Linked DNA regions of Homo sapiens. The protein of the gene in region 1 purifies or fractionates together with the protein of each later gene. This does not show direct contact. Each region holds a gene or a part of one and is shown on either strand. Other genes may lie near its edges. The genes, in order: EPHX4, KCNAB2, GOLPH3, SERPINA12 and LNPEP.

Evidence for each region.
Region 2: the proteins of EPHX4 (region 1) and KCNAB2 purify together in Homo sapiens (co-immunoprecipitation; one large-scale study listed by IntAct). This does not show direct contact.
Region 3: the proteins of EPHX4 (region 1) and GOLPH3 purify together in Homo sapiens (co-immunoprecipitation; one large-scale study listed by IntAct). This does not show direct contact.
Region 4: the proteins of EPHX4 (region 1) and SERPINA12 purify together in Homo sapiens (affinity purification with mass spectrometry; one large-scale study listed by BioGRID and IntAct). This does not show direct contact.
Region 5: the proteins of EPHX4 (region 1) and LNPEP purify together in Homo sapiens (co-immunoprecipitation; one large-scale study listed by IntAct). This does not show direct contact.

The regions. Positions count from the first base shown.
Region 1 is NC_000001.11:92,028,560-92,032,797, reverse strand, and holds the start of EPHX4 (epoxide hydrolase 4), read right to left. Parts: upstream 2,814-4,238; 5' UTR 2,719-2,813; coding exon 2,488-2,718; exon of another isoform or gene 2,411-2,487; intron 294-2,410; coding exon 208-293; intron 1-207.
Region 2 is NC_000001.11:6,087,377-6,090,899, forward strand, and holds part of KCNAB2 (voltage-gated potassium channel subunit beta-2), read left to right. Parts: intron 1-90; coding exon 91-135; intron 136-1,631; coding exon 1,632-1,675; intron 1,676-3,012; coding exon 3,013-3,099; intron 3,100-3,523.
Region 3 is NC_000005.10:32,126,754-32,129,328, forward strand, and holds part of GOLPH3 (Golgi phosphoprotein 3), read right to left. Parts: intron 1-2,575. UniProt on the Homo sapiens protein: Phosphatidylinositol-4-phosphate-binding protein that links Golgi membranes to the cytoskeleton and may participate in the tensile force required for vesicle budding from the Golgi.
Region 4 is NC_000014.9:94,506,670-94,510,700, forward strand, and holds the start of SERPINA12 (serpin A12 precursor), read right to left. Parts: upstream 2,801-4,031; 5' UTR 2,673-2,800; intron 1-2,672. UniProt on the Homo sapiens protein: Adipokine that modulates insulin action by specifically inhibiting its target protease KLK7 in white adipose tissues.
Region 5 is NC_000005.10:96,974,060-96,977,582, reverse strand, and holds part of LNPEP (leucyl-cystinyl aminopeptidase), read right to left. Parts: intron 1-3,523. UniProt on the Homo sapiens protein: Release of an N-terminal amino acid, cleaves before cysteine, leucine as well as other amino acids. Degrades peptide hormones such as oxytocin, vasopressin and angiotensin III, and plays a role in maintaining homeostasis during pregnancy.

The DNA.
Region 1 (4,238 bases):
CCTCTGCCATGTGATGTTGCAGCAAGGAGGCCCTTGTCAGATGTTGGCACCTTGATCCTGAACTTCCCAGCCTCCAGAACTCTGAGAAAATCATTTATGTTCATTTTAAGTTACCCAGACTGTGATATTCTGTTACAGCAGCACAAAATGAACTGAGAAAATAAGCCAAGTTTTAATGTAACAATAAATGTTAGTTGGTAAGCTTACCAGAATTCTGGAAATCCATGAAGCAGCAGCATAAGTGGTTTGCCTCTTTCTCCAGCAGCAACATAGTGAAATCTTAACCCTGAATCCTGAAAGTAGAGGGCATGGAATTTTAGTGATGTTTGTGTTGATTGACAAAGCAATATATTTAGCATTTCCATTTCATTAAAAAAATAGTAACTTGCCTTATTTTAAAACATTTGTGTATTTACAATATCTTCATGACACTCAGTTGCCTTATTTTTAACATCAAGAAATATATTTACTTTTATTAATTTTCAAAAAGAAAAGCAAACCCCATGACCTATTAATAGGGTAAATTGACAGATTCACTTTGTCAACACTCCCTTGACAGTACCTTCTCTTCTTGTTCTAGTACAGTCAATTTATATATTATGAGCTTCTGAAGCAATGTCACAATTTGTAACTTTCATCTTACCATTTGTAACTTTCATCTTACTGATGTGTCACATTTCATCTCCCTCAAATGCTGCAGGACATGTAAATAATTCTAATCTGAATTTATATTTCTGCCATGTTTACATCCTAGTCATCTACTTTTCTCAGCTTGCCCGTCAAGAGCTGTGCCATCAGTTATATAATTCACACCTCCTTCTCTTATTTTTAGGTCTCTCCTTCCCACATTATTATTTTGAGTGTTGCATGTTCTGTTCCCCTTGCTGCCTGCTCATGTCATGTCAGTGTGCGTTTCTAATAAGAGAATGCCCTGAGTGCTCAAGACTTCACTCTGCATGTAGGAGACAAGAAAACCCAAGGAAAATTAAAAAAACATGGGAATGAGTCAGGAATTCAAGCAAATACTAAGCAGGCTGAATTGAGGAAAGTAGAGGGAACAGCAGGAATAAAAATCTCTGAAAGCAAGCAAGCTAGGAAACAAAAAGAACCAAAAGCTAAACACAGACATTGGGTTTTTATAGCAGGCAACTCAAGCAACTGAGTTTTCAGATGTGAAAGAATCATTTTGCAGATTCAGAAGATGAGGCCCAAAGATGGTAACATGAGTCATAAAATGGTTGAGAGCAGGGCTGTGACCAGAATCTCCATCTTGTCCTAACTCCCAGGACAATGCTCTTTCCACTCGGTTCTCTGTCTCTGGGGAAGCTCTTTAGGCGGCCAGAGCGAGGGGAAAAGTGTTTTATGGAATTCCAGATGGTTCTTATACTACTTTTACCCCTCAGGTTGAACAGAGATAACAAATCTGACTTTACCCTCAGCTGCACGATGGCTTCCTAGAGGTTCAATAACTTTTTTTATTGGTGGTGAGTCTTGGAGGATTAAATGTTATGGGCACTGCAATGGATTTAATTAACAGATACTTTATTGCACTGACTATGCATCAGGCATTGTTCTAAGTTTTTCGTGTTTGTTTTTATAAATATTAACCTATTTAATTCTCATGTCGACCCCAGGCAAGAAAGAAGTTCTCTTGCCCTTCTGAACTTCAGCTGCGGGGCAATTTAGCTCCTAACAGGAAATAAGGACTTGGTGACATAAACATCCCCTCTTATGAGGCTGGGTTTGAAAGGCCTGTGAGTCAGACTGCAGGGTGTATCACGGGAACTATTTCCCTTCACCACCTGGAGCCTCAGGAAACAGAATATTTGTGGGCTGTGAGGAAGCTTGAACAATTAGCGTCTGCAGGCATGGCTGGATTTACCTTTTATTCCATTCCTTTCTTTGGTCCCTGACTTCATAAGTATGCATTCCTCCCCACAACACACACAATTTACTTATTGTTTCATGCAACCTAAGTCGTCTGTGATCATAATAAACTCATGACTCCCAAAGACTGACTGTTTACTCTTATTATCTCTAAAATTGGGCAAGAACAGCCTCCTGAGACATTAGGATGCCACGAGGAACAATTCTCTACAGCTGATCTGAGCTCTAAAGGGCAAAAGGGTGACAGGAGACAGCTTCCCCTTGCAGTAGGAAAAAGAGCAGGTTTATTCTGGGTTGTTGTGGCGCCGGGGGGCAGTAATATAAGAGGCCCCTGATTAGAGAAGTTCCACATTCAGAAACCAATCAAGGTGCCTGCAAAGACCGAGTGCTGTTTATCTGTATCTCTCTCTCTCTCTCTCTCTCTCACACACACACACACACACACACACACACGACACACAGGGACCCAACCCCTCCTCCCCTCCTGCCAGGACACTAGGGGACGCTGAGCCAGCGTCTCGGAAGGAGAAGCCCGGAGCCCCCCACCCTCGCGGCGGTCACGCTCCCTCCCGCTCCCGCCAGGCCCGCGCGGCCCTTCACCTTGATCCGCACGTAGCAGTGGGTGCCCAAGGAGGGGTCGCTCAGGCACGCGGGAGGGTGCTCCCGGGCGGGCCGCCGGAAGGTCTGCGCCGGCCCCTTGCCGAGGCTCCACAAAAGTTTGAGCAGGTGGATGGAGGCGCAGAGCCCGCAGTAGCAGTAGACCAGGGACCAGAAGAGCAGGGACCGGAGCGTGAGCATCAGGCGGGGCAGGCAATCCCGCAGCCTCGCCATTGGGAGGCGGCGGCGGGGCCCACTGCCCTTCCTCGGGAGCGGGTGAGCGAGCGCCGCAGCGCGCCAGGCCAGCCCGCCGTCGCCTCTCGACGCGCGCCTCCCCCGGCCCGGGGCGGCCGGCGTTCCGTGTCACCGCGGCGGCTCCGCACACGCGCCGCGCCCAGCCCGGAGCGCGCAGGGGAGAGCCGGGCCTGCGGGGTGCGGCGGGCCAGGCCGGGGTGCAGAGCTTGGCTGTCTTCCGCGGAGAGCGAGATCCCGTTTCAAAATCGCAAAACTGTGGGGGAGGATGAAGGCGAGACTTTCCCAAACCATCCTGGGCACCAAAGAAGGTAGCGCCACTCAGTCTTCTTTGTTGTTCTCAATGTATCAAGCAAAACTATTTCTAAGCCCACATATTCGTGTGTCATAGTTCAGGGACACAGGTCAGCGACAAACTTCCATGCTATTACACCCAAAGAGATTCTTTAGAGTGCAAAATCACTCTGCACTCTGAAAGATACCAGCCTTCCTCTTCTCAAAATCTTTCGTGGAATCATAATTTCTGTAGAAATCCGCCTATGCCTTGCCTGGTTCAGCCACAGCAAACTTACAGAGAGCTGCAACCCCAGGGATACAACGAATGCTTCAACAACGTGACGCGGCAGAAGCCTGGCCAGAAGGCCACACACCTGAGAGTTCGTCGAAGGGCTGGAAGCCGTGAGAGTGACAGTCCTCGGTAGGTATCTCAGCCTCAGCACCGACATGGCCACTCTTGTCCTGACCTCTTCTATCGTCCAGTTCACTGTTAGAATTTCATTAAGCCTTTTCCCAATCACCGGGTCAGGTATTAAGTGTTCATTTTTTATGAGAAACTGTCAAACTGGTTTCCAAAGTGGCTGTACAATTTTGAATTTACTTCAGCATGTGTGAGTTATACAATTGACCTTTGAACAATGCGGGGGGTTAGGGTTGCTGAACCCTTTCACATCTGAAAATCCATGTATAACTTTTGAGTTCCCCCAAACTTAAGTACTAATAGCCTACTACTGACCAAAACAATTAACATATGTTTATGTATTACATACTGTATCTTTATAATTAAGAAAAATGTTAAAATCATAAGGAAGAGAAAATACATTTACTATTCATTAAGTGGAAGTGGATTATCTTAAGAGTGTTCATCCTTGTCATCATCAGGTTAGGTAAGCTGAGGAGGAGAAAGAAGAAGGGAGGTTGATCTTCCTGTCTTGGGGTGAGGGGGAGGGAAGAGGTGGAAGAAAATCCATGTGTAAGTGGACCTACACAGTTCAAACACATGTTGTTTGAGGGTTAACTGTATTTTGCTCTTTTTTTCTAGGGTCTTGAGTTAGGAACTTATTGAGACCTTTGCAATTTCTAATGCAATCATTTAGCACCTATACATTTCTCTCAGTACTCTTTTTATTTTATTTTTTGAGACGGAGTCTCACTCTGTCGCCTAGACTGGAGTGCAATGGCGCGATCTCCATCTCAGCTCACTGCAAGCTCCGCCTCCCGGGTTC
Region 2 (3,523 bases), about 86 Mb from region 1:
CTCTGTGTGAGAGATGAGGACGTCGGGGATGAAGGAGGACCCCCCAGGGGCCGGGCTTATCACACCCCTTCTTTCTCTTCTGTTCCACAGGCGGTCCAGCCTCGTCATCACCACCAAGATCTTCTGGGGCGGAAAGTAGGTGCAACAGCTGGCGATGCTTCCAGCCCCGGCCCAGCAGCCACGGCCCCGTGCTCCCCAGAGACCCCTGACCTAGAAGGCTCCTGGGGTGGCGGGAGGACAGTCCTCCTTGAGAAGGGAGAGTGGTCGGGGTCTGTCCTGGACAGGCCCCGGCCCAGTGCCATTTCCTGTCCCCAGCAGGGGCAGAGCTGGTGTTTCTGCAGCCATCAGCTATGCCTGGTGCCTGTCCCTGTTAAGGGACGTCAAATCCAGAAAAGAAGCTGTGGCCGAGTTTGCCTTTTACAAAAACCTCGCTTAACTTTCCTTTTTACTCACATGGATTATTTTTTCCTGGTCACTATGGTAACATCATAAAAATTATAGAGAAAACAGAAAATTTGTGAACTGCCCAAACCCCCAAAGCACTCCAAATTCCCTGGGCCGCCTGTCACCCCTGCAGGTCTCCAAGTGTCTAGCTCCATAGTTTCTGGGCTGGACACACTTGGGCTCATAGGAATTATAACTACGATTCATTCATTCATTCTTTTTTTTATTTTTATTTTGTTTTTATTTTTTATTTTTTTGAGACAGGGTCTCGCTTTGTAATCCAGGTTGGAGCGCAGTGCCACAATCACAGCTCACTGTAGCTTCAAACTCCTGGGCTCGAGCGAGCCTCCCACCTCAGCCTACAGGGATGAGCCACCATGCCTGACTAATTTGTCCTTTTTCTCTCTCTCTCTTTTTTTTTTTTTTTTTGAGACAGGGTCTCACTTTGTCACCCAGGCTGGAGTACAGTGGCGTAGTCCCAGCTCACTGCAGCCTCAACCTCCTGGGTTCAAGTGACCTTCCTGCCTCAAGTAGCTGGTTCTACAGGCACATGCCACCATGCCCAGCTAATTTTTTTATTTTTATTTATATTTTTATTTTTGTATTTTGTAGAGATGGGGTTTCATCATGTTGTCCAGCCTGGTCTCAAACTCCTGAGTTCAAGTAATCTGCCCACCTCAGCTTCCCAAAGCACTAGGATTGCAGGCGTGAGCCACCACGCCTGGCATTAATTTGTCCTTTTTTAAGATATGGGGTCTCACTATGTTGCCCAGGCTGGTCTTGAACTCCTGGGCTCAAGTGATCCTCCTGCCTTAGCCTCCCAAAGTGCTGGGATTACAGGCGTGAGCCACTGTGCCCAGCCTGATGTGTTCTTAATTTAAAAAATAATAATAATAATAATAATAATAATAAGTCCAAATCAAACAGACGGGTTAGGTTGAAAATCAAAGCCCCCCACCCCCTGCTGCTGCCCCCCTCCCCTCTGAGCCCTGTGACCAGGCCTCTCCCTGGGCCTCTGGGAGTTCAGCCCTGTAGCCTCGGGTCCCTACCCCCAAAGTGGAATCCGACTCCACACGGCATTTGCTGACCCTGTTTTTGCGTCTAACATTGCATCGTAAACGTTTTTTGGGAGGGGCCAGGGTGCCAAAACCGCTGGTGACATCACACGCGGTCGGCCTGTTTTCCAGGGCGGAGACGGAGCGGGGCCTGTCCAGGAAGCACATAATCGAAGGTGAGGACGCGCTCGGGCACCTCAGGGCCCCCATACCTGTGGGATCATCCTCGGAGGCCAAAGTGATGGCAGCACAGGGCCCGACCCCCCCAGTTAACCCACTGAGGGCCCAATCCCGGGGCACCCGGTGCTCTGGCCTGACCTTCTCCTTCCACCCAGGTAGCACAGCGGGACGCTGCAGAGAACGAGGGCAGCCCGGTGGCTGAGCACAGACCACAGACCAGCCTGGGTTTCAATCCAGGTTTGGCCCCACACTGGCTGAGTGGGTCTTCAGCAGGGGCACCCTGCCCCATGCCTCTGCCACAGTATCTGTGCAATAGGGACAGTAAGAGCGCACCCGGCGAGGGTGGCTGGGATGCCTGCAGCGCCCAGGAGAAGGTGCCACACAGCCCGGGGCTCAGCACTCGCAGGCACCGGAGCAAGGCACCGGGGTGTCTGGCTCTTGCTGTATCTTTATTGTCTTCATGCCTTTCCTGTCCGTGTTCATTTTCTTCGAGGTAATAGATCATTCCATTGAAAATCACCTGGCGGGGCAAGCCACCCACTCCCATCCTCCCCACCCCAACCCAGCGTTTCACTCTGCCGGCTGTGTGTCCTGAGCTGCTCTAAGCACCAGCGGGTGGCTTGGGCGTTTTAGACACTATTGCCATTGTTTTTGTTTTTGAGATGGAGTTTTGCTCTTGTTGCCCAGGCTGGAGTGCAGCGGCACGATCTTGGCTCACTGCAACCCCCACCTCCTGGGTTCAAGCAATTCTCCTGCCTCAGCCTCCTGAGTAGCTGGGATTACAGGTGCCCACCACCACATCTGGTTAATTTTTTTTGTATTTTTAGTAGACACAGGGTTTCACTATGTTGGCCAGGCTGGTCTCAAACTCCTGGCCCTCAAGTGATGCGCCCGCCTTGGCCCCCCAGAGTGCTGGGATTACAGGCATGGGCCACCACGCCCGACCATAGACACTATTGCCTTTGATGGGACGGGCAGCAGGTGTAGCCCTCCCTCCACATGTGATAGATAAAGTCATCTCCCTGTTGTAATACACAGTGGCCTCAGAGGAGGGTATATTGTCTGAGGGAGGAGGGGCTTCCCCTTCATTTAGTCAAGGACACGTGGCCTGTGGTCCCCCGATGTCCTCCTGAAGGGAAGATCCCCCCACTCCCTGTGGGATGTGCCCCCACCTCTGCCGTGGCATTTCACGACCTCCATCAGCTTCTGGAAGCTTCCAGATGCCAGAGGCCTCTTCTCCATCTCTTGTTCCCTGAGCCGGGCATGGATGGGCCCAGGTGCCTGTGGAGATGGAGCCACAGCAGTGACGCCCCCCCACCTGGTCCTCCCCCAGGTCTGAAAGCTTCCCTGGAGCGACTGCAGCTGGAGTACGTGGATGTGGTGTTTGCCAACCGCCCGGACCCCAACACCCCGATGGAAGGTAGGTGGTCTGCGGCGGCGCCACCGGTTAGGCCTGGGCGGGGTCTGAAGGGTCTGAACCTGGGGTTGTAGAGGCCGCCAGCATGGGCCCTGCTGGGCACCCGGGTGAGCCGTGAGAGGAGGCCGGGTCCAGGGTGGGGGGCGAGGGGGCAGGCCTCCCCTCAGTAGGGGGTGAACTCAGCCTCTGGCTGCAGACCCCTCGCCAGGTGCACCTGGCACCTCCAGGCTGAGTCCCTGTCCTGGCTTTGGACCCAGGCCGATCCGCCCTCCGAGTCAGAGCCGCAGTGGAACTGTCCCCTCCCCTCTGCGGCTGCTATTTTGCAGCTAAGTGAAGTCGCAGTGTGGGGACTCCAACTGCGGTGTTCTCTCCAATCACCATCCATTGGGAAGCTTGGGGGGACTTTTTTGCTCTGGGGGATAAATTA
Region 3 (2,575 bases), on another chromosome or scaffold:
GCCATGTTTTTCTCCCTAACTAGACCATGAACCCCTTAAGCCTAGCCAGACCTTTGGATTCTAAGCACCCAGCACATCCTCAGCCACAGGAGTCACTCAGACGACTAAACTGCAAGCAGTCTTCAGACCAGAGTCAGTAACCCTTAGTCTTATGTGGAAATGAGCCAAATATTATGTTTGAGCTTCCTTCCAGCTGAAGTCAAAAAGCAGCCAATAGCCAAATAAGTTTTCTATTAAACACCAGTCTGCAACTAATAGACTAAAAAAAAAAGCTTCCTGATTAATATGTTATTCCTGAAACTGCTACACATATACAGCCTATAGAGGTAGGAAAGCCTGTTTAGGCCATGCTATTATTTGATAACAATATAAAGCTAATTCTGGAAGGATACAAATTTTCACAATTTTAACCTTGCCATCCATACATATTTCCTTTTGAGAGAGAAATATTTAAAATAAAACCAAACGATTTTTCACTAAAGTGGGTTCTTCTTTATAGAAAACTGGAAGGAAATACACCAAAATATTAATCTTACTTATCTTTGGGATTATGTGTGCTCAACTTTTTTTGTGCTTTCTGCATTTTCCAAATGATCTCCAATGAACATGCAACTATTTTTATACTTAAAAAAACTATATTTTTCTAAATTAGAATATGTTAAAGATCAACCACAGGCATCTTTTTTAAATGCAAACGTTGTAAGGTCGAGATTTTCTAATACTGAGAGAAAACCTTCAGCCACACTGTCCATTACAGGAGCCATTACCCACATAGAGCTATTTAAATTAATTTAAAAATTCATCTCTTCAGTGGCACTAGCCACATTTCACGTATACAATAGTGACGTATGGCCAGTGGCTACACCCCACAGGAACAGAACATTTTCATCATCAAAGAAAGTTCTAGCGGACTATCTTAAAATTTTAAGTTGCTGTCTTAAAATATATTACCATTCAACTGGACAGAGACACAATTATTTTCCTATACTTAATACTAAACAACATAGGCCTATGATGAAGTAATCATTCCTAAAGCTGCCCTCTCATTGTAATTAGAAATCTCCATAAAATATACGAAAAAACTGTTTTCAGACACTAGTCAAAAGCAGCCCAGAACTGTGACACTTGAGTGCAGCCTATGTGAGCCTGACAACTGCCTAAGCTTACCACCTAGAGGCACGTCCCAGGCAGCAGAGCAGGCAGGAAGAACCCAAGCAGAGCACAGCAGTCCCATCACGTTAAGGCAGCAGAGATCAGAGTTCAGGGTAGCTAAGGCAGCTGCAGTGTGCAAAGCAGACTACTGGAGAAGGGGGACCTACACAGATAAAGAGGTCTAGAAATCTGCAAGGTGTTCCTTGAGTCTTGGGCTGAAAGCTAAAGCTACATGTGTTAGGGTGAGAAATTCCACAAAGCTAGGCAAAGAACACCTACCAGAAAGTGAACAATTCTAAGAGTTCAGTAGAGCTGGGAAAAATGTGATTGCCAACTAGCCAGAGAGCAAAAGCCTCACTAAAAACCAGGACATTCAGAAGGAATACTAGAAAATTCACATCTTAGTAGTAGGGCTAAACCAGTCCTAGAGTATAGACCACCCTAGACATGCCCTAATAAAGATTAAAAGCGGCCAGGCGCGGTGGCTCAAACCTGTAATCCCAGCACTGTGGGTAGCCCAGACGGGTGGATCACCTGAGGTCAGGAGTTCGAGACTAGCCTGGCCAACATGGTGAAACCCCATCTCTTCTACAACTGCAAAAAATTAGCCGGGCATCGTGGCAGTTGCCTGTAATCTCAGCTACTCGGACGGCTGAGGCAGGAGAATCATTTAAACCGGGGGAGGGCAGAGGTTGCAGTGAGCCGAGATCGTGCCATTGCTCTCCAACCTAGGCAACAAGAGTGAAACTCCATCTCACAATTTAAAAACAAAAACAAAAAATTAAAAACAAGTTGATCCACAAGTAACTTAGCTGCCTACCAAGACAAAATTCAACACTCTTTAAAGAAAGACCATAAAATTCATCACTTAACATTCACACTGTCCAGCATCGAAGTTAAAAAAAAAAAAAAATCACTAAACTTGCAAAGCAGCAAAAAAGTGACCTAAAACTAGGGGTAAGGGGGGAGTCAACAGAAACAGTCCCAGCCTGGGCAACATGGTGAAATCCCGTCTCTACAAAAAATACAAAAGTTAGCCGGGGCCAGGCATGGCGGGTTACGCTTGTAATCCCAGCACTTTGGGAAGCCAAGATGGTGAAACCCTGTCTCTACTAAAAATACAAAAATTAGCCAGGCATGGTAGCAGGTGGCTGTAATCCCAGCTACTCGGGAGGCTGAGGCAGGAGAATCGCTTGAACCCGGGAGGCGGAGGTTGCAGTGAGCCGAGATTGCACCACTGCACTCTAGCCTGGGTGACAAGCACAAGACTGTCTCAAAAACAAAAACAAAAAAACCCCCAAAAAACAAAACCAAAAAAACCCTAGTGTCCTAGTGCAAGTCATCTTAATCTATTTCTCCATTTACTCATCTATAAAGTGAAAGTAACAAATTTATCAAGCTCATAGGGCTATTACGAGGATTA
Region 4 (4,031 bases), on another chromosome or scaffold:
GTTTCCATCCTGGGAGTGCATTACAATCATCCAGGAGCTTTAGAAATACCTATTTTCAGAACATTCCTCTAGAGATTTTGAGTTAGTTGATGCAGGATAAATCCTGGGTGAGGGTGCCTTTAAGAACTTCTCTCCAGGGGATTTAATGAGTACTCAAGGTTGAGAATCCCACTCCAAAGCAAGTGATTCCCACCTGATGATTCCCAGGTCTTTTAAAGCATTCAGCCACCAGGTATCAAGATGGCTGTAAAGCCACAGTATTAAGGTATTGGAACAGAGACAGACAAGCTGACCAATGGAACAGACTAGAGAATCCAACAGAGCCACACAGGAAGTCACCTGATATGTGACAAGGGCATCGCTACAGTTCAAAGGAAAGGATGATCCTTTCAATGAATGATGAAAACAACAACAACAACAACAAAACACCAGTGGATGTCCATACAGGAAAAATATAAATAGTGACTATTTTACTCAACATACAAAAATTAATTTGAGAAGTCACAGACCTAAATGTGAAAGGTATTAGATTGGACTATATGAAACTATTGGTCTTTAATATTTTTTAACCTCAAAACCCACAAGAATCAAAATGATAAAGCTTCTAGAAGAAAATATATTAATAGTAGACAATCTTTGTGACCATGAGATAGGCAGAAAGTATTAACCATTTTTACAAAATGATAAATGGAACTTCATTAACATTAAGAGCCTTGTTCCTCTAAAATTACCTAGGACAGTACAAAGGCAAGTCACAAGCTGGGAGTGGTACGTGTAATGTCTGTGTCTGATAAAAGGCTCATGCCTGTTTTTAAGCACTTCTACAAATCGACTGAAAAAAGACAACAACTTAAAAACTAAGCAAAGACATGAACAAATACTTCACAAAAGAAGATATCCAAATGGCCAATAAGCAGCTGAAAAGGTGCTCGACATCATTAATCATCAGAAACATGCAAAACAAAACTACAAGAAGAACTCACTACACACCCACTAGAATAGCTCAGATTAAAAGGACCAGCCACACGAGGACGTGGAGCAAGTGGAACTCTCTTATATTGCGGGTGGGTGTGCAAACCGACACCAACGTGTTGATTGGAAAATTGCTTGGCAGGATCTATAAAAGGTAAACATATGCTTACCCTTTGACCCATTCATTGTACCTCAGGGTATATGCCCAACAGGAAATGAGTGCTTGTGGGTTTACCAAGACATGTACTGCAATGTCCATAGCAGCTTTATGTGATAGACCTAAAGTGGAAACAACCCAGATGTCCATTTATAGTAGAGAAGGGAGAGAGAGAAAGAGATTCCTGGCCACCATCCCAGATCATACTTTGCATTTCCCTGGGTGTCCCCACTCTTCTTTGGTTTCCACAGGATCCCCAGTTGATGCTTGTGACAGACAGCTATGGGAGCCAGTGACCAAGAGTGTGAAACACTGCAAAGCCCAAATCCCACTAGAACAAATTATACTGTACCTCCAAGCAATAAGGCAAAGACTGAGTAAATGCAATGTATTTTCAGTCATTGAATTCAACTCCAATTGGGGAGCTTAATCAATAAATGATTTAAAATTAATAATAATTGATTTTGAAAGAAAATATTTTTAAGCAATCTCCGGTAAGATCCTAGGTTACCCTAAAAAGCTTCTAGTACAAAATGTTGAAAATCTTTCCACACAAAAATCTAAACAAGTAAGAAATAAAAGGAGAGAAATAGAAAATTTAGAAAATTTTTTTTTAATGGGAAGCATTCTGTAAATAGTAAAAAATTCAAGATGGCATTTCAGAACATTCGAGAAAAGGTGAACAATTCCATAAATGCTATTAGGAAACAAACAAATCATTTCAAAAATAAAATTACAAGTGTTGGAATAAAACCTTTTCATAATGTTAGAGTGAAAAAGAACTTCCTAAGTGTGATACACAAGCCAGAAACCATGTAGGAAAAGATGGCATATATGGATATACCATCTTTTTGCAACGTGTTAAAACTCTACAGAATATGTAAAATTTGGAATCACAAATTGGAACATGTGTACAAGATAGAGAGCTAATGTTCTTAACAATTAAGAGTTCTTATATATATCAATAAGTAACCACATGTGTTTCTCAATCAGCAAAAAGTAAAAAATTTGGGTAAATATGCATTGAAACATTGTGGGTGGGGGCCAGCTTTGATTTTCCTCATCTTATTTTCTTCTTTGTCTTTGTCTCTGCAGAACAGGGTACTTCCATGCACATATTAGTAGATACGGTTATTCATAGACATTATGTATTTTTCATACCAACTTTGCAAGTTTGGGTGCTGCTAGACCCATTTTTACACATGAGAAATCTGAGTTTCCTATAGCTGCACAGTTAGCAGATTCAGGACTCAAAAATCAGGTCTTCTGGTTCTGAATCCCTTTTTCCATGGATAGCTTTCTGGTAGACCATAAATGAAAGCATGGCCACAGCATCTTGGCAGCCAGCACAGACCCATGGAACTCTTGGCCAGACTGGTGATCCAGCCCTAGGGCTAGGCATGAGAAGGACGCAGAATGTCTGTCTATTTGAGTGATCACCTTGGCCCTTGGTTGTCTTCTCTAAGACAGAGAAACAGACAACACACACACACACACACACACACACACACACACACACACACACACTGCCCCTTGGACTAACCTCACCTCCCCAGTTTCTCCTTTCCCCTCAGGTCAGTCTTCCTTGGCCTTCCCCAGTTGTTGCTGATCCCAGCCTCCTAGTCCTTTTTCGGTCCTGGTCCTGCAGCCTTCAGGTTCCAGGTATGTTCCTCTAGGCTCCCAGCCCCACAAGCCTTATCTACAAACTGGGTGGACTTCTGCCCAACGACCTACTAAGCCTGCCTCTGCCACCTCCACCCCTTTCCCAGGATCAGCCTGGCCAACTGGCCCTGCCAAGTGTCTCACTCAGAGAGCAATGCGTCTGGGAGTTCCCTTCCTCACCCCTTGGGAAAGATCAGGCCTACTTTTTCTCTCCCATCCCAAATAGCAAGGGGCACTGTGCTAGGTACACCCAAGGTGCTCTGTAGATTCACTGATGAGGGCCTGGCTTGCTAGGACCTGAGTGTTTGGCACCCAGTAAACCTCATAAAAGTGAGTGCACCAGAAACCAGAGTGACACACGCCATCCCCTCCCAGCTCCACAGCCCTGATCCCTGTGATCATCTTTGAGCAGAATCGTCCACCCCAGATTCCTTCCCTGGGACAGGACAGGAATGGGTGTGGGCACCCTGGCACTGCTATAGAATACCAGCCGCCTGGCACAGATGTTCACATGGCCCTCTCTCACCTCCCAGGTGCAGCCTGGGAGCAGGCAGCCCATCCATCCAACCCCACCCCACTCCCGAGCTCTGGGACGTCTCAGGGCCTGGGCCTGTGGTCTGGGTACCAGACATAGGTGACTCATAATGCACCTGGTGGCTGGAGAAGCCATCCCTTCCTCTGGTTCTCAGTGTACTCACCTGTACAATGGGCAATAGGAGACTGCATTGGATCTGTGGTTGCCTGAGAGAGCCAAACTATTGGAAGTCATGCTGTCAATCAATTTCACTTAAAATAATATAGACCCAAGTCCGTGCTAAATGTCATTCAAGCCAGATCTAGATGCTGGTAGAAGAGCAGAACAACAGAGGATATAAAAAAAGAGCATTTGCTCAACATTACTAACCATCAGGGAAATGTAAATGAAAACCACAATGAGATACCACCTTACTCTTACAAGATGGCCATAATTAAAAAGTAAAAAATAAAAATAAAAAAAATAGATGTTGGCATGAATGTGGTGAAAGGGAACACTTTTACACTGCTGGTGGGAATGTAAATTACTACAACCCCTATGGAAAACAGTATGGAGATTCCTTAAGGAACTAAAAGGAGAGCTACCATTTCATCCAGCAATCCCACTACTGGGTATCTACCCAGAGGAAAAGAAATCATTATATGAAAAAGACACATGCACACACATGTTGCGTAATTTCAAAGATATGGAACCAACCTAAGTGCC
Region 5 (3,523 bases), on another chromosome or scaffold:
AACGCAGCCTCTGAAGTCTCCACCTAGAATACGAATTTTAACAAATCCTCGGGTGCTCACGTGCACTTAAGTTTGAGAGGCACTGGTATAAGCATCTTCCATGGTCAGATCCCAGCCAGCACTAAATACCATTCCTGAGTATGCTCTGGCCATCCCAAACTGCTTACTATTTTGAGCACAGGCCAGGCAGCTATTCCACGCTATCCTCCACATGTCTCTTTTTCTTTTCTCTTCCCTCTGCTTGCAGTGTCATCATCTCCCTTTCCCATGCCCATCCACCTGGTATTCCGTACCTCAGCTTAACTTGCTACAACACAAATTAAGAAAAGTTATGTTTTTTTGTTTTTCCTTTGTCTTTATTACCTTTAAAAAATAAACTTTCTTTTCATTTCACTTCACCCATTTCTGCTTTGGGGAGCATATGGATCACAATGAGGTTACCTTTTCCTGACTCCTCTCCAACCTGAACTGTATACAAGTTATGCTACTTTAAAATTTTTATTTGAATAAAACTTCTAATCATTTTCTAGGTATGAGTTTAGCATTCTGCCATCTACCCATCTACTATGAAAGAAGAAGGGTTCTAACATACTGCTTTTGGGAATATAATCTCCTAAACTTCCTATAGTGCCCCAATTTCTTGTTAAAAAAAAAAAGTATGTTCTGTTTTGATAGTTAATAGTGTTTTGGGTCATACACTTCATTAACAGAGCAAATATTGCTGTATTCAATTTTTTAAAATTGCTTTTAAAACTCTTAATGATTAGAAAGTTTCTGTAGTAGTTTTTTGGTTCCTGGCACACTGCTGTAGACTAGCTTAATTTTTTTTTTTAATTTAAAAATGTCTAAAAAGGCCTTTTTTGACTTTTTTACCACACATGGGAAGATTATGCTCTCAGGCATTTGCCCCATGTGTTTTGTTCTGTGTCAGGCCTACTGCAGACAACAATGGGTTCTGTACAGCATGGTTTTATTTACTATATTTCTGAACTAACTCCAGGTACAATCTCAGCTTAATATTTAGAGCATTCCAATCTCTCAATTCTGTCCCCTTAGAACTTTGTTGCTGTGTTTTTTTATTCTTCTGCCATGCCATTTAAAGCCAAGAGATATTCTACAGTTTGACAATTTGGTATCTCCTGTCTGCATGTCATTAATTTCAAATCTTCTGACAAGGGCTTAGTCAGATGCCTGCCTAAATCCAAATAACTTACTTTTATTATTTCACTCCCAGTCAGAATAATACCAACGTAGAATTTTAATCTTTCAGAAATGGAGATCACATCAACCCATTTGCTATATTTCACTGTGCAATATAGAAGCACAGTTTTTTTTTTGTATGCACAATCATATCAAGTTAAATATATCAAATCAGGGAAAATCACTTTTATTACAGGTATCCCATGAAGATACATGAAGGTACTTCAAGCCTATTTAAGAAAATGTTGATTTGATTCTTAAGTCAGTACACTTTGATTTTGGCATTAAATTGTAACATAACACATGATTACCCCTTGCTCGATGGGATTTATTCCTACTGAAAGAAGGGATCCTAAAGAAACAGGGAATTTTCTAAAACCTCTTAAATCCACATATAGAAGCTATCTATAAGTCAAAGCAAAGAACCTTCTACTGAAATGTTTCAGTTTTAAATAACATAGGCCCATGTGGTTATAATCTAAGAGAACTGAAGACATTTCTTTTCATCAGATACTGTGAACTAGCATTCCTCAATGTTGTTTGTGGACCAGTGCCAATGTGCAAAAGTGTGACCCATCTGGGACAGGATATACATAGACTATTAGTACCCAAAAACTTTTATGACAATTTGACAGAGTAATTTTTATGTGTATTGAATTTAATAATGTATAAAACTGAGCTATTTTTGTATGTCTTTTTTCATTTCATTTTTCTAATTAATTTTTTTATATGCTACAAAATTTCTGCAACAGATTAAAAATTAAAAAAACAGAAACAATAAACCCTGGTTCTTCAGCTCAGATAATGTGAGAAGCAGTGAGTTAGACTGTCACTATAATGGCAATAACAGTCAAGATAAAGTTCTTAACTATGTCAGTAGCAGTGAGAATAAAGAGGAGGGTATGATTACAAGTCACGTCAAAAAGGTAGATGCACAAGAACTGATACTACCTCGGGCTAGATGGACCTGCAGGGTAGGAGACAGAGAAAAGTCTATGTCAATTCCCTTTACATTCCAACTTGTATAACTGAAAAGAAGGAATGTCATTCACTGAGATTGAGAATATAGTCTTTCACATTTTCTAATTTTTTTTGAGGCAAGGAAGGAGAACAGGATTATGAGATGGCATTCAGTGTAGGATATATCTGTCAGATAACCAGGTGGAGATGTTTGATTAATAGAGTTAAAGGCCTGATTTTAGGTAGACGTTAAAATCCTGGCTTTTCCACTGACTTCAAACAGGTTACCTTTCTTAGCCTCAATTTCCTCACCTATAAATGTGGGAAACAGTGCTATTTTGTAGAATTGTTAAAAGGATTATGTTACGTGGGTTTAGAGCTCAAGAGAGTGATCTGGGTGGAAGATTCAGGTTTCCGAATCACCTGTGCAGATATGGTCATTAAAACCATGCAGATAAATGAGACTATCGAAAGGGAGACTCAGGGAGGATCAGCATTTAAGAGCTGGGTGGCCAGAGGAAGAAGGTCAGCAAAGGAGAAGAAATGGACCAAAGGTAGGAAAATCAGGAGTGGCATCCCAGAAACCTAAAGCTTTCATAAAGATGAAAGTGGCCAGCATTAAATATTTTAGAAAGGTCAAGTAAAATGAGGCCTAGAGAGACCCTTACATTTGGTAACCAGGGAACCAGTGACTTTAATAGTGAGAGTAGAAGCCTGATTCCAGGGGCCCAAAGAAGAAATGGAAAGTTAACAAAAGAAAACAAGGACTGCAGACTATTCTTTGAAGGTATGTAGTAGTTTATCAAGGAAAAAACATAGGGATAAACTAAAGGAAAATGTGGTATAGACAAAACTTAAATCCTTTTGTTTTTCATTTGTCTGTGTTTAAGATGGGAACAACTTGGGCATGTATTTCTGCAGGAAAGGAACAGTAAAGAAAGACAAAATGTGGAGGTGAAGGAGTAGGGGAGGGAAAATGCTGGCGTAGCATCCAGAGGGACAGGGAGAGTGTACAAGAAAATGATGGGAGCTAGGTGCTCTCCCTCCAAGCCTGGAGGACAGGAGGTAAAGACAGAGAAGAGGCATGTGCATGGGCACAAAACAGCAGAGAGCCTTCATGTTCTCTGTGACAAGTGCAAGCAAAGACATCTGCCCAGAGCTAAAGGCAAGTTGTTGGGAAGGCATAGGGGCTTGAGCAGAATGAGGGACAGGTGCCATAGGAGAGGGCCAAGGAGTGGTGACCCCAAGACAAGCATGACTGAGAAGGTCAGAAACCCCAGTGGAATTTGTCATACCACAAATCTCTAAAAAACATCTTCAGCACTTCTTACCAGCCCAGGTCTAAAAGAAGAGAAGTGTTATG